Linked DNA regions of Homo sapiens: region 2 is linked to region 1. A link means that fine-mapping ties the variant in region 1 to the expression of a gene that starts in the linked region. Tissue or cell type: cerebellar hemisphere. Region 1 holds a variant in brackets; the other region holds the start of a gene. All regions are shown on one strand. Distances are from middle to middle.

The links. PIP is the estimated chance that this variant, and not a neighbour inherited with it, causes the effect.
Region 2: DEAF1 starts here. The variant in region 1 is fine-mapped to the expression of DEAF1 in cerebellar hemisphere (GTEx, PIP above 0.99).

Annotation. Positions count from the first base shown.
Region 1 is chr11:187,789-195,862 of GRCh38, reverse strand. It overlaps SCGB1C1 (secretoglobin family 1C member 1), which reads right to left and starts at 2,785. Exons shown (of 3, transcript NM_145651.3): 1 at 2,709-2,785; 2 at 1,952-2,151; 3 at 1,288-1,445. The coding sequence starts at 2,763. The coding sequence ends at 1,413. The variant C/A (reference allele first, on the strand shown) is at 4,295.
Region 2 is chr11:692,190-697,582 of GRCh38, reverse strand. It overlaps DEAF1 (DEAF1 transcription factor), which reads left to right and starts at 2,361. Exons shown (of 12, transcript NM_021008.4): 1 at 2,361-2,824. The coding sequence starts at 2,536. It overlaps TMEM80 (transmembrane protein 80), which reads right to left and starts at 1,767. Exons shown (of 5, transcript NM_001042463.3): 1 at 1,737-1,767. The coding sequence starts at 1,755. RefSeq lists enhancers at 223-762, 1,303-1,842, 1,843-2,384, 2,385-2,924 and silencers at 1,370-1,789, 2,290-2,589, 2,600-2,719, 2,740-2,989.

The DNA.
Region 1 (8,074 bases):
ACCATGTTTCTTTCACCAGGTCCCCTCAACCAGGCACCCACCCATGAAGTCCCCCTCACTGGGTCCCCTCACCAGGTCCCCTGTAACCAAGTCCTCCAGGGCCCCCTCCCTAGGGCTCCCTCAGCCAAATGGAAATCCAGGCAGATACCATGTAGGCAGGTGGGACAGAGCACAGAGCCGACAGCACCGCATGGCCCCCTTGCCAGGCTCAGACAGGACAGAGGTGTGGAGAGGAGGGCCGGGGCAGTGAAGTGTCAGGGCTCAGCACCCAGGGTGGCCAAGGATGGGGCGGTTCCACTCAGCTGTGCCCCCAGAAGAGACCATAGATTGGGCAGCTGAAATGCTGGAAGGTTCTGGCTGTGGGAGAGTCTGGGATCCAGGGTCAGGATCAGGGTCTGTGCTGGTTGTGGTGGGTGTGAGTCAGTGTGGGCGCTGGGGCTGCCCTGGCTGACCTCAGAGGCTGCTCACCTGCGGCTCCCAACCCCCTTGGACATGGGTGTACCTTTTTCTTGGCCTTGTCAGGGGTCCTCTTGGGGCTCGACACCAGCTTTCAGATGCTGAGCACCCCCGCCCTGACCTAGCCCATGGGCGACATGGGGTCTGTGTCCACCCAGTCCTGGACACTTCCTCTTTCTGGGGCTCCCACCTCATACCGCTGCCTCTGCCGCCCGTCTCCCTCCGGACGCCCCCTCCAGACGCCCCCTCCGGACGACCACGCAGTGTTGTCTGGCTCTGTGCTCTGTCCACCTGCCTACGTGGCGTCTGCCTGGATTTCCATTTTGGGTCTTGCCTGTGGTGTGCCTGCTCCTGTGTGGACCCTGTGTGTACCTCTGTGGGGACTTTCACACGTGTGTTCCTTGAGTGGGATCCTCTGTATGTGGGTCTGTGTGTGTGGCTGTGGCCCTGTGTTCCTGATGTCCCCATTTGTGTGTACCTCTGTGGGGACTTTCACACGTGTGTTCCTTGAGTGGGATCCTCTGTATGTGGGTCTGTGTGTGTGGCTGTGGCCCTGTGTTCCTGATGTCCCCATTTGTGTGTCCCTCTGTGGGGGACTTTCGCACGTGTGCTCCTTGAGTAGGATCCTCTGTATGTGGGTCTGTGTGTGTGGCTGTGGCCCTGTGTTCCTGATGTCCCCATTTGTGTGTCCCTCTGTGGGGACTTTCGCACGTGTGCTCCTTGAGTGGGATCCTCTGTATGTGGGTCTGTGTGTGTGGCTGTGGCCCCGAGTGTGTTCCTGATGTCCCCATTTGTGTGCCCCTCTGTGGGGGCAGAGACAGGAGCCTGAGCTGCGGAAGAGGCTTTATTGATTAAACGGTTTGAGGATACATTTCCATGTGGGAGGTGGTAGTGGGCGTTGTGTCCACGGCTGCTTGTGTGGCAGGTCCTATGGCTGAGCCATGTCTGAGGTCCACTTAGGCACCGTCCTGACTGCCCAGCACTTGCACCTGGAAGGCAGACACATGTGGACTAAGAGGGCTGTGCTCAATAAGTGGAGAGCCACAGCTCCATCAGGCAAGCAAGGCCCTCAGTGGGGGGGGGTCTGGCATATTGCTGCCTATCTCCTCCCAGCAGCTGGGAGGTGTGTGTGCACATGTGATGGTGTGCACACATGTATGTGTGTGCATATCCCAGTGTGAGCATGTGGGTGTGAACGTGTTTATACATGTGTGCACGCAGTGTACATTTCATGTCTGCACCTGTGTTTGGATCTCTGTGTATGTTCACATGTGTGCATGGAGGAGTATCCCACAGACTGGGGAGGAGGTCTATGGAGTCTGGGGGCTGCTCGGTGGACAGGAGGTCTGGGGTGTCCACCTGAGCTGGCTGATGCGGGTGCAATGTCTGTGGGTGGTGGATGTCTGTGGGTGGGGTAGGCTGTGTGGGTGCTGTGTTGGGTGGTCTTGGTAAGGCTGCAGATCTTTAGAAAATGGGGTGCCCGCCGCCCTCATACCAGCAGCTTGACCAGCTCCGCCTTGTGCATTGGCTGCAGGCCATCTATACAGGACTTGAGTTCAGTCATTGCTGCCTTGGCATCTTCGTTGACATTGTACTTGCCCAAGGTCCCCTCATAGAGCTCCTCTGGGGTCCCCACCAGTAGTGTTTGCAGGAAGTCCATGAAAAACTCATCGTTGTCCTCCCCTGTGGCCATCCCTGCATCACGAGCGAGATGATGCCAGGACAGGACAGGGTGACTCTGGTGCAACCACAGCCCTGGACCTGCCCCAGGGCTCCAACCTCCATGGTCTCCAGACCTTCCCCTTCAATGCCCACCTCTCCTCCCCAGGGCTTCCTCCACAACACCTCCAACTCCACCTTGCCCGAAGACCCCTCCACATCCCCCTTAATCTTAGCTGCTCCAATTTCCACTCAGCATTCCCTGGGATCACCAGGGAAGGAAAGTTAAGCTCCTGGTGTGGGGGAAATTTCCCCTGATGAGAGGCTATTATGACCAGAGGCTTGAAGGGTCAGGTCAGGCTGGACTGGGCTGGGGTAGGAGACACTGGGCTGGTGTTGGGTCAGCTGGGCTTTGTCCTTGGTTGGGGTGGAGTAGGGTGGGCGCGGGTTCTGCAGGGTCCTTGCCCACTTCTGTGACAGAAGCAGGTGGAGTGTTCACTGCAGAGGCCCGATGCCAGGATTTTACCTTCTCAGGTACCCCCCACTCCCCCCCACCCCTGAATGTTCTGGAAACCCCAGTGGCACAGACTCACGGCAGATGCAGAACAGGGTGAGGGCCACCAGCAGGAGGGCACGGCTCCCCTTCATGCCAGCAGTCTCAGGAGCTGCCTCCAGCCAGAATCCCGGGATTTTATGCCTCACCGGACAGCACCTCTCCTAGAGGGCGGACCGGACCTGCCCATTAGGACCCGGCAGCCAGCTTAGATGAGGTTTGTTCACATCCCTGGCCCCCAGTGGGTGCCAAGCAGCAACAGGCATGGAGTGGCTGTGTGACAGGTGGTTGGCAAGCGGCTTTAGGGTGTGTGAGAGAGAGAACAGGTGTGTTAGGAGGGAACACTGGTGAGAGGCCATGCCAACTGATCGGTGAAGAAGGCAGTGGGTCCTGGCCACCAAGGGCCTCTAGTCATGCCTGCCCTTGAGGCCGAGAGTGGTGGGATCTGGGGTTGGTCCCACGCCTTTCTTTTAAGGTGCGAATCCCTCCTCTTATCAGTGTGCTGTGTGATCTGGGTCTGCATCTGGGGGTCTCCAATCAGGCAGGGGCCCCTTACTACTCAGATGGGGTGGCCGAGTAGGGGAAGGGGGTGCAGGCTGCACGAGTGGACACAGCTGTAGGACTACCTGGGGGCTGTGGATCTATGGGGTGGGGAGAAGCCCAGTGACAGTGCCTAGAAGAGAGAAGGTGGCCTGAGAGGGTCTGAGGAACATAGAGCTGGCCATGTTGGGGCCAGGTCTCAGCAGGAAGTGAGGAATGGGACAGGCTTGAGGTACATCTTCCATCAGTAGCCAGGATAGCAAGGAGGGCTTGGGGTTGCTATCCTGGGGTTCAACCCCCCAGGTTGAAGGCCCTGGGGGAGATGGTCCCAGGACATATTACAATGGACACAGGAGGTTGGGACACCTGGAGTCACCAAACAAAACCATGCCAAGAGAGACCATGAGTAGGGGTGTCCCAGTCCAGCCCTCTGACTGAGCTGCATTGTTCAAATCCAAAGGGCCCCTGCTGCCACCTAGTGGCTGATGGCATCCACATGGCCCTGGGCCACACGCGTTTAGGGTCTCTGTGAAGACCAAGATCCTTGTTACATTGAACGACTCCTAAATGAGCAGAGATTTCCACCTATTCGAAACAATCACATAAAATCCCATCCTGGAAAAAGCCTGGGGGATGGCACTAAGGCTAGGGATAGGGTGGGATGAAGATTATAGTTACAGTAAGGGGTTTAGGGTTAGGGATCAACGTTGGTTAGGAGTCAGGGATACAGTAGGGTCACCGGTAAGGGTTAGGGGTTAGGGGTAGGGGTTAGGGTTAGGGTTAGGGTTAGGGGTTAGGGGTTAGGGTTAGGGTTAGGGTTAGGGTTAGGGGTTAGGGGTTAGGGTTAGGGTTAGGTTTTGGGGTGGCGTATTTTGGTCTTATACGCTGTGTTCCACTGGCAATGAAAAGAGTTCTTGTTTTTCCTTCAGCAATTTGTCATTTTTAAAAGAGTTTAGCAATTCTAACAGATATAGACCAGCTGTGCTATCTCATTGTGGTTTTCAATTGTAACCACATTGTGGTTTCAATGTGTTTACTTGCCATCTGTAGATCTTCTTTGGTGAGGTGTCTGTTCAGATGTGTGTG[C/A]ATTTTTAGTTGGGCTGTTTAACTTATTGTTTAGTTTTAATAATTTTTTATATATTTTGAAGACAAATTCTTTCTCAGATGTGTATTTTGCAAATATTTTCTTCAATATGTGGCTTGTCTTTTTGTTCTCTTAACAAGGTCTCTTCCAGAGTATAAACTTTAAATATTAAGAAATCCACACTGTCACTTCTTTTGTGTATATCTACCTTTTGTGTCATTTGTTAAAATTCATTACCAAACCCAAAGGCAGATAGCTTTTCTTCTATTGTTTCTTCTAGAAATTGTATAGTTTTGCATTTTTAGTGTAAGGATGATTTTGAGTGATTATTTGTGTAAGTTGTAAAGTTTTCGTCTATATCCATATCATTTCTTATGGTTTCCAATTAATCGTTCCCTCACTATTTTTGGGAAAGACACAGGATAGTGGGCTTTGTTAGAGTAGATAGGTAGCTAGACATGAACAGGAGGGGGCCTCCTGGAAAAGGGAAAGTCTGGGAAGGCTCACCTGGAGGGACCACCAAAAATTCACATATTAGTAGCATCTCTAGTGCTGGAGTGGATGGGCACTTGTCAATTGTGGGTAGGAGGGAAAAGAGGTACCTATGCAGAAAGAAACACCCTAGAACTCCTCTGAAGATGCCCCAATCATTCACTCTGCAATAAAAATGTCAGAATATTGCTAGCTACATGCTGATAAGGCCAAAGGGGACATTCTTAAGAGAAACCTGGCACCATAAGTACAGATTAGGGCAGAGAAGGACATTCAAAAGAGGCAGGCGCAGTAGGTACAAACGTGATCGCTGTCAGTGTGCCTGGGATGGCGGGAAGGAGGCTGGTGCCAGAGTGGATTCGTATTGATCACCACACATGTACCTCAACCAACAGTGAGGAGGTCCCACAAGCCTAAGTGGGGCAAGTTGGGGAGCTAAGGCAGTAGCAGGAAAACCAGACAAAGAAAACAGGTGGAGACTTGAGACAGAGGCAGGAATGTGAAGAAATCCAAAATAAAATTCCCTGCACAGGACTCTTAGGCTGTTTTAATGCACGCTCAGCCCACTCCTCCCTATTTTTCTACAATAAACTCTTTACACTGTGTTTCTTTTCAATGAAGTTATCTGCCATCTTTGTATTGCCTCTTGGTGAAAATGTTTCTTCCAAGTTAAACAAGAACTGGGACATCAGCTCTCCCCAATAATAGCTCCGTTTCAGTTTGAATTTACAGAACTGATGGGGCTTAATAACTGGCGCTCTGACTTTAGTGGTGCAGGAGGCCGTCACACCGGGACCAAGAGTGCCCTGCCTAGTCCCCATCTGCCCGCAGGTGGCGTGCTGCCACGACACCGACAGCAATAGGGTCCGGCAGTGTCCCCAGCTGCCAGCAGGGGGCGTACGACGACTACACTGTGAGCAAGAGGGCCCTGCAGTGTCCTCAGCTGCCAGCAGGCGGCGTACGGGCACCACACCATGAGCAAGAGGACCATGCAGTGCCCTGGTTGCCAGCAGGGGTCGTGCTGCCACTACACTGTGAGCAAGAGGATCCTGTCGTGCCCCCAGCGGCCAGAAGAGGGCGTGCCCCGACTACACTGCAAGCAAGAGGGCCTGGCAGTGTCCCCATCTGCCAGCAGGCGGGCGTGCTGCCACTACACTGTGAGCAAGAGGGCCCTGCAACGTCCCTAGCTGCCTGCAGGCGGCGTGCCGCCACTATATTGCGAGCAAGAGAGCCCTGCAGTGCCCCGGCGCCAGCAGGGGGCGCTGGCCACCACTGTAAGCAAGAGGGCCCTGCAGTTGCCCTAGTCGCTAGCAGGGGGCGCACTGGGACAGCACCGCGGGCAAGCGGGTCCTGTAGTGCCCGGCTGCAAGCAGGGGGCGCCCGAGCCCGGCTTTTTGGATTACTGAGGTTCAACCCGTCTCTGCGCCGCGCCCCCGAGGACGTGCGTCTCTGCGCCTACAACGCTCCACCCCCGCGCTCTCGTCCCGGTGGCGCGTGACTCTGCGTCTGCACCACCCACCTCCCCCCAAACCCACAGCCTAACGACGTGCGTCTCTGCGCCTGCGCCGCGCCTCCCCCCGCCCCCCAGGGGACGCGCCACTGTGCGCCGGCGCCCGCGCGCCGCGCCTCTGTGCGCCTGCGCCGGCGCGCCGCGTCTCTGTCAATTTAGAAAGCTTATTTTGCCAAGATTAAGGACACGACCATGACACAGCCTCAGGAGGTCCTGACGACGTGTGTCCAAGGTGGCCAGGGTAGAGCTTGCTTTTGTACATTTTAGGGATACATGAGACGTGTAAGATGTACAGTCATTTGGCCCAGTAAGGCGGGACAACTGGAAGCAGGAAGTGGGGGTGCTTCCAGGTCAGAAGTAGGTTAGAGACAAAAGGTTGCATTCTTTTGAATCCTTCATCAGCCTTCCACTGAATACACAATTTAGTCTGGCTCAATGAATCTGCATTTTTACATAAATAATAGGGCAGAGGAAGCAATCAGATATGCATCTGTCTCAGGTGAGGGATGACTTTGAGTGCTGTCTGTCCTTTGTCCAAAAGGAAATTCTTTGTGGGCAAATTGTGAGTGAGGTATGTAGCTTTTTATCTTTGTAGCTATCTTAGTTAGGAATAGAATGAGGGCAGGTTTGCCTGACATAGCTCCCAGCTTGACTTTTCCCTTGGCTTAGTGATTTGGGGGTCCTGAGATTTATTTTCCTTTCATGGTATCAGAACAGAGAAAAGGTAATGCGTTGAGCCATGAGCTTATGACAAGATGGCTAGGAAGGAATTTTTCAGCTCCATTTTTATGTCATGGGACCACCATCATATGTATGCAATGCACGAGTGTAAAATCACATTTAGTTAAGTCAGCTTACACTAAGCTATGGACCCAGATGGTCCTGGGGCCTTTTTCCACTGGGAGATCTTTAAGGACCTTTCTTAGCTTTTCTATGCTAATTGGTATATTCATAGTTGCCTTATTTCAGGGCCCATTTTGTTAATGTGTATTTTTACTAGGAAATCACCCATTTTTTCTAGGTTTCCAGTTTGATGCAATTATTTGACTTTTAATTTCTCCTCTGTTTTTAGTTTTGTACATAATTTTCCTATCTACTTTTGCACTCTTTTTTCCATCAACAATATTTTTAAAATATACTTTTTAGCTTTTTTTGAAGAATTGTTATGTTTGACAATTTTTTATGACCTAATCATGACCGTAAATGATTTTTAATTAATTTCAGCTTAATGTCTTTTGTAGGGCACAACTGTTAAAATACAGAATTACAACAAATGTGGGTTTGCAGATCTTAATTGGCTTTTTTTTGTGGTTCTAGAATCAGGCAGCAGTCCAGACCAAAAATGGTTCAGAATGATCTGCCACACAACATGTGCGGGTTATATTTATAGCCAGAGGAAAAAAGTGACATACAGAAAACAGAAGTGAGGTATAGAGGTGGCTGGATTGGTTACAGACCTGGTTACAGCCCGGATTTGCCTTCTTGGAACTTGTTTTGAACAGCTGGCTGCCGGCCATTGACTGACACTCGGCTGATGTGATTGGCTGAACCGCCGCTATTTGTTACCATGATACATTCCCAAGTCAGATTTTCAGTTTGTTTCTATACTAAATTAGGTTGCGATTCTTCTTGTTCTTCTTCTTTTTTCTTTTTTGAGGCGGAGTCTCGCTCTGTCGCCCAGGCTGGAGTGCAGTGGCGCGATCTCAGCTCACAGCAAGCTCCGCCTCCCAGGTTCACGCCATTCTCCTGTCCCGGCCTCCCGAGTAGCTGGGACTGCAGG
Region 2 (5,393 bases), 500 kb before region 1:
TGTTATAGATTGAAGTTATGGGGCTTGGGGGAAAAACTGTATAAAAGCCTTAAGTGATGTAACATTTTAATAATTAATATGAAGGGCGGCTATAACCAGATACGCTGTTCTAACAATTCCAGACCTGCAGGAGCTCATTCTGACCGAACGTAGCCTTGGCTTTCAGGACAACATTTTTTGTCAGTGACTTACTATAATCACAATGTGGCTACGAATAGCTGTGTCAGGCAGAAGTTAAACATGGAAGTGAAAGAGAACAAGTGTTTTCCCTGATGTAATGGACAAGATGTGTTAAGAAATCTTGTTTTGGTATACACTTAGTTTTTTTAGAGACAGGGTTTTGCTCTGTTGCCCAGGCTGGAGTGCAGTGGCCTGATCACAGCTCACTGCAGTCTCAACCTCCTGGGCTCCAGTGATCCGCCAGCCTCAGCCTCCCACGTAGCTGGGACCACAGGCTCCCTGAGGTAATTTTTTTTTTTTTTGAGACAGAATTTCGCTCTTGTTGCCCAGGCTGCAGTGCAATGGTGCGATCTTGGCCAACTGCAACCTCCGCACCCCACCCCCCCCACCACCACCACCGGGTTCGAGCAATTCTCCTGCCTCAGACTCTCAAGTAGCTGGGATTACAGGCATGCACCATCACGCCAGGCTAATTTTGTATTTTTAGTAGAGACGGGGTTTCTCCATGTTGGTCAGGCTGGTCTTGAACCCTCGACCTCAGGTGATCCGCCCGCTTTGGCCTCCCAAAGTGCTGGGATTACAGGCGTGAGCTACTGCGCCTGGCCTTCCCCGGGGTAATTTTTAATTTTTTTTTTGTAGAAGGGGGTCTCGCTCTGTCGCCCAGGCTGGAGTGCAGTGGCGCCATCACGGCTCACTGCAACCTCGACCTCCTGGGCTCAAGTGATCCGCCAGCCTCAGCCTCCAGAATAGCTTGGCCCACAGGGGTGCGCCACCGCCTGGCTGATGTTTACAGTTTTTTTTTTATAGAGGGGGTCTTGCTATGTTGCCCAGGCTGGCCTCAAATGATCCTGCAGCCTCGGCTTCCCAAACTGTCAGGCTTACAGGCCTGAGCCACTGCGCCCAACCTAAACTTAATTTTTAACCAAATGAAAATACACAAAACAAACCTGGTTACTAGAGGCTGTCCTGCCTATGGAGTAGCCATTCTTTATTCCTTCAAAACAATGCACCTAATTACTAGAGAACACGCACGAAGGTTTGGCACTTCAGCGCCCGCGTATGGGAGTTCTGGCTGTACCCACAGACAGCAGAAGGCGGCTCCTCTGCAGGATGGCCGATTTACTGCTTTGGTCTGTCCCTTCCTCCTCTCGGAGGCGAGTCTCTCAGGCAGGACGGCTGAGGCACCGGCGCCCGCGATTTTCTTTGGCGAGAGTTCCAAGGCTACCGAAACCCTGCGCCCATCCCGCCCACGTGTCTTCACAAAAACCACGCGCGGGACAAGAGCTGCCGGGGACTGGGGCCCCCAGAGCCGCTCCGCACCCACCCTGCCCGGGGCCAGGCGCCCGCGCGCGGGGGAGCTCTTCGGGGTGCAGGACGCCCGCCACCCAGGCCAGGCCAGGCCGCGCTTCTCGATGGGGTGACGGAGCTGTCTCGCTCACGTAGAGACGGTGGCACGGCCCCGTGAGCGCACCGAAAGCGGAAACCGGATTGTCACCACAGGGAAACGCCGCGCCCGCCGCTGCAAGCCCGGAAGCCCCCACCCCGCCCGAGCTCACCTCGCCGCGGGGCCGCCATCTTACCCGCCCCGCCCGCCGGTCCGTCGCGATCCCGGCAGCCTCTCGGCCCGCGCGCTCGCGCTCCTTCGGCCATTTTCGCGTCTCCTGACGAAGGGGCCCGACCGCGCCGCGTTTCGGGAGCGGACGTCCGAGCCACGGCCGAGGCCCGATTAGTCCGTCCGGCACCGCTCGGGCACTTTCGGAAGGGAAGAGGTGGAGAACCGACGTTCGGGAGCATTCGGCCTCGGGGACATTCGGCTCGTCTCGGCTCGGCCTCGGGCTGACTCGGCTTCCGCCGGCGGCGGGAACGGGCGAAACCCGCGGCACTAAGCTCTCTCTGAGAGGCAGAATTGCGCCGGCCGCCGGCGAGAATCTGCCTAGAGCCGTCCAGCCCTGTCGGCCGGGGACGACAGCCGCCTCAGCCTGTCAGGACAGTGAGGAGAGCAGGGGCCGAGTCTCTCGGAAGCCCTCGTGAGGACTCGGACCTATTCGGACTGATTCGGCTTCCCACTTCGGGGAACTTCGACCCTCCTCGGTTCAGGACTCGGTCTCGGCTCGGCGGCTTCGTGCAGGTTCGGCTCCTACTCGGGCAGCCTCTGTTCGCCTCGGCTCCGCTCCGCGGGCGGACTCGGCTCGGCTCTGCTCGGCGGCTGGCTGCCTTTTCGGTCCCTATTCGGGCGGCGGCTTCGGGCGGCCTCGGCCCAGCTCGGGCGTCCTCTTCGGGCCCCGCTTCGGGCTCCGCGACCGGCGCTTCGGGCGGTCCCGGACGGCGCCTTCGGGAAGGCTCGGCGGAGTCCGGATGGAGGACTCGGACTCGGCGGCAAAGCAGCTGGGCCTGGCTGAGGCGGCGGCGGTGGCGGCCGCGGCCGCTGTGGCGGCGGCGGCCGCGGCCGCGGCAGGAGGCGAGGCGGAGGAGCCGGTGCTGAGCAGGGACGAGGACTCGGAGGAGGACGCAGACTCGGAGGCGGAGCGGGAGACGCCGCGGGTCACGGCAGTGGCGGTGATGGCGGCGGAGCCCGGGCACATGGACATGGGCGCCGAGGCCCTGCCCGGCCCCGACGAGGCCGCCGCTGCCGCAGCCTTCGCAGGCAAGTGCGCCCGCCGGCCTCTCGCCTCGTCCGGTTCCCGCGCGCCTACCCCGCGCGCCTGCCCCGCACAACTGTCCCAGGTGACCAGCCCGCCACACCTGTCCCTCACACCTGCTCCACGTGACCAGCCCGCTCCACCCGCCCTGCACACCTGCCCCTCACACCTGCTCCACGTGACCCGCCCGCCCCACCCGCCCTGCACACCTGCCCCACGTGACTAGCTCACCCCTCACATCTGCCTCTCACACCTGCCCCACCCGCCCCTCACACTTTCCCCACGTACCTGCTCCAGGTGACCAGCCTGCCCCACCTGCCACAAATACCTGCCTCGCACACCTGCTCGACGTTTCCAGCCTTCCCCACCTGCCCCACGTGATCGGCCTGCCCTACCTGCCCCGCACACCTGCCCCACATACCTGCCCCAGGTGACCAGCCTGCCCCACCTACCCCAAACACCTGCCCCGCACACCTGCCCCTGGTGACCTGCCTAGCCTCACCTGACCTGGCCCTGCCCTGCACACACCTGCCCCCTGCCCCCCTTTTCTTTGTGGCAGCCCCGCCTCCTACTGGTCCCCCCTGTGCAGCTCTGCCCCTGCCCTGCCTTCGTCCATCCTGGCTCCCCCCACCTGTCCTGGAGAAGCCCTGGGGTGGGTGGGCACCTGTGGTCACCAGGAACCCCCCACTTCCTGAGGGCCAGTTCAGGCATGACCTGAGCGCTGGGGAGCCAGGGGTGGGCAGCCTGCTGGAGGCCATGATGCCAGAGGTCAGCGTGGCTGTGTGGTGGCCCAGGGGGGCTGCGGAGCCACCTGTGCAGGCTCCCCTCCCAGTCCTCCCTCTTCCTCTTGCCTTTTTCCCTAAGGACCTGCTCCTCCTGCCCCGCTTCCTGTCGGGCTTCCTTTGGGGAGGCTGCTGTGGCTTTCCAGTCCACATTTTTATATAAGCTGCTTATAGTTTCTTGCCACACAGGTCAGTCTCCTTCTCAGGCTCCAAAACACTGGGAGCCCGTGGCAGAGCTCACAGATGCCCTACGGGGCTGGTGCCGTCCACCCACCTCCTGTGTCCCGCCCTTGTGTCCGTGGGGCATAGACTTCCCCACCCACTGGCTTCCTAACGCACTGTATTCTTCCCCATTGGAGTTCCCGAGTGTCCCCCAGGGACTCACAGCTCAGTGTTGAGACCCTTGGGAGGAGCTTCTTGTTGCGTTGTGAGGCACTTTTCCCCTACGGAGCTTTGCGGGTTGAGGAACTGGATCCCAGTCCTGGTGTGCTGGGTATGTCAGGGCATTGCGTGTGCTCTGGGTGCTTGTTCGGCCTGGGGGCTGGGTGGGGGCCAGCAGCGTCTGGGCTGCCCTTGGTCAGCTGAGTGGCCCTCGAAGGCAAAGGGGTCACTGCTGCTTGTTTGGTTGGTTAAGAAAAAAAAGTGAGGGAAGGCTTTGTGACTCTCAGGGGTTGGCGTCCGTCGCTAAACTCTGGTTTGACGTTGGGATTTGGAGCCATGAGGTTGATTTCAGGTTTTTGTCATTTTTGCACGTATTTTTCTGAATGCATAAAAGAAAAATGATGCTGTTCATCATGATGTCAGAGAAATGTGCTGACGTGTGTTTTCTTCTGAAAAATATGGTAGTTGTGTTTTGATGTGGTAAAAGCACTTTAATACTTTTTAAAAATTACGAACAGCTGACGTCAAGTGGTTTCCAGGTTTAAGTAACTCAGCAGGACACGCTGCCGCCTGAGGAGGCTTTGGGCGGCTGCTCCCAGGGCTGCCATGGGCCTGGCGTTGAGCACTCACTGTGGCCGCGCGCCGCATGCCGGGGCTTGTGGTGCTGAGAGGCGAGGATGAGGGAACCGTGCACCTGGTGTGGTCTGGTCGTGGAGACAGACAGCAAACATGCCTTTTTTTTTTTTTGAGACGGAGTTTCGCTCTTGTTGCCCAGGCTGGAGTGCAATGGTGTGATCTCAGCTCACCGCAACCTCCCGCCTCCCGGGTTCAAGTGATTCTCCTGCCTCAGCCTCCCGAGTAGCTGGGATTACAGGCATGTGCCACCACGCCCGGCTAATTTTGTATTTTTAGTAGAGATGGGGTTTCTCTATGTTGGTCAGGCTGGTCTCGAACTCCTGACCTCAGGTGATCCGCCCGCCTTGGCATCCCACAGTGCTGGGATTACAGGCGTGAGCCACCGCGCCCGGCTGCAAACAGGCATTTTTAGGGCAGTTTGGTGAGTGCTGGGTTAATGGTATGGTCAGGACTCATTCAACCAGTATCTTTTAAGCATCTGCTGTGTGCCAGAGATTGCCCTGGACACAGGACATTCTAGAACTCTGGGTGACAGAAGAGCCACTTGCTTGGCCTAGGAGCATCACAGGAAGACTTTGCAGAGGCAGAGAGGAGGGTGTGGGGGTGTTGGCGGCAGAAAGTGTTTCTCTAGAAACACTCCAGCATGTAGAGGCTGGAGCTGCAGGACCTATCTGGGATGACAGGGGCAGGAGGTGGGGTGCAGCTGACCTCTGTGGTAACTGCCCTGTGTGCAGATGCTGCTGAAGGGCCTGTCTGCATGCCAGGGGGCTGAGTT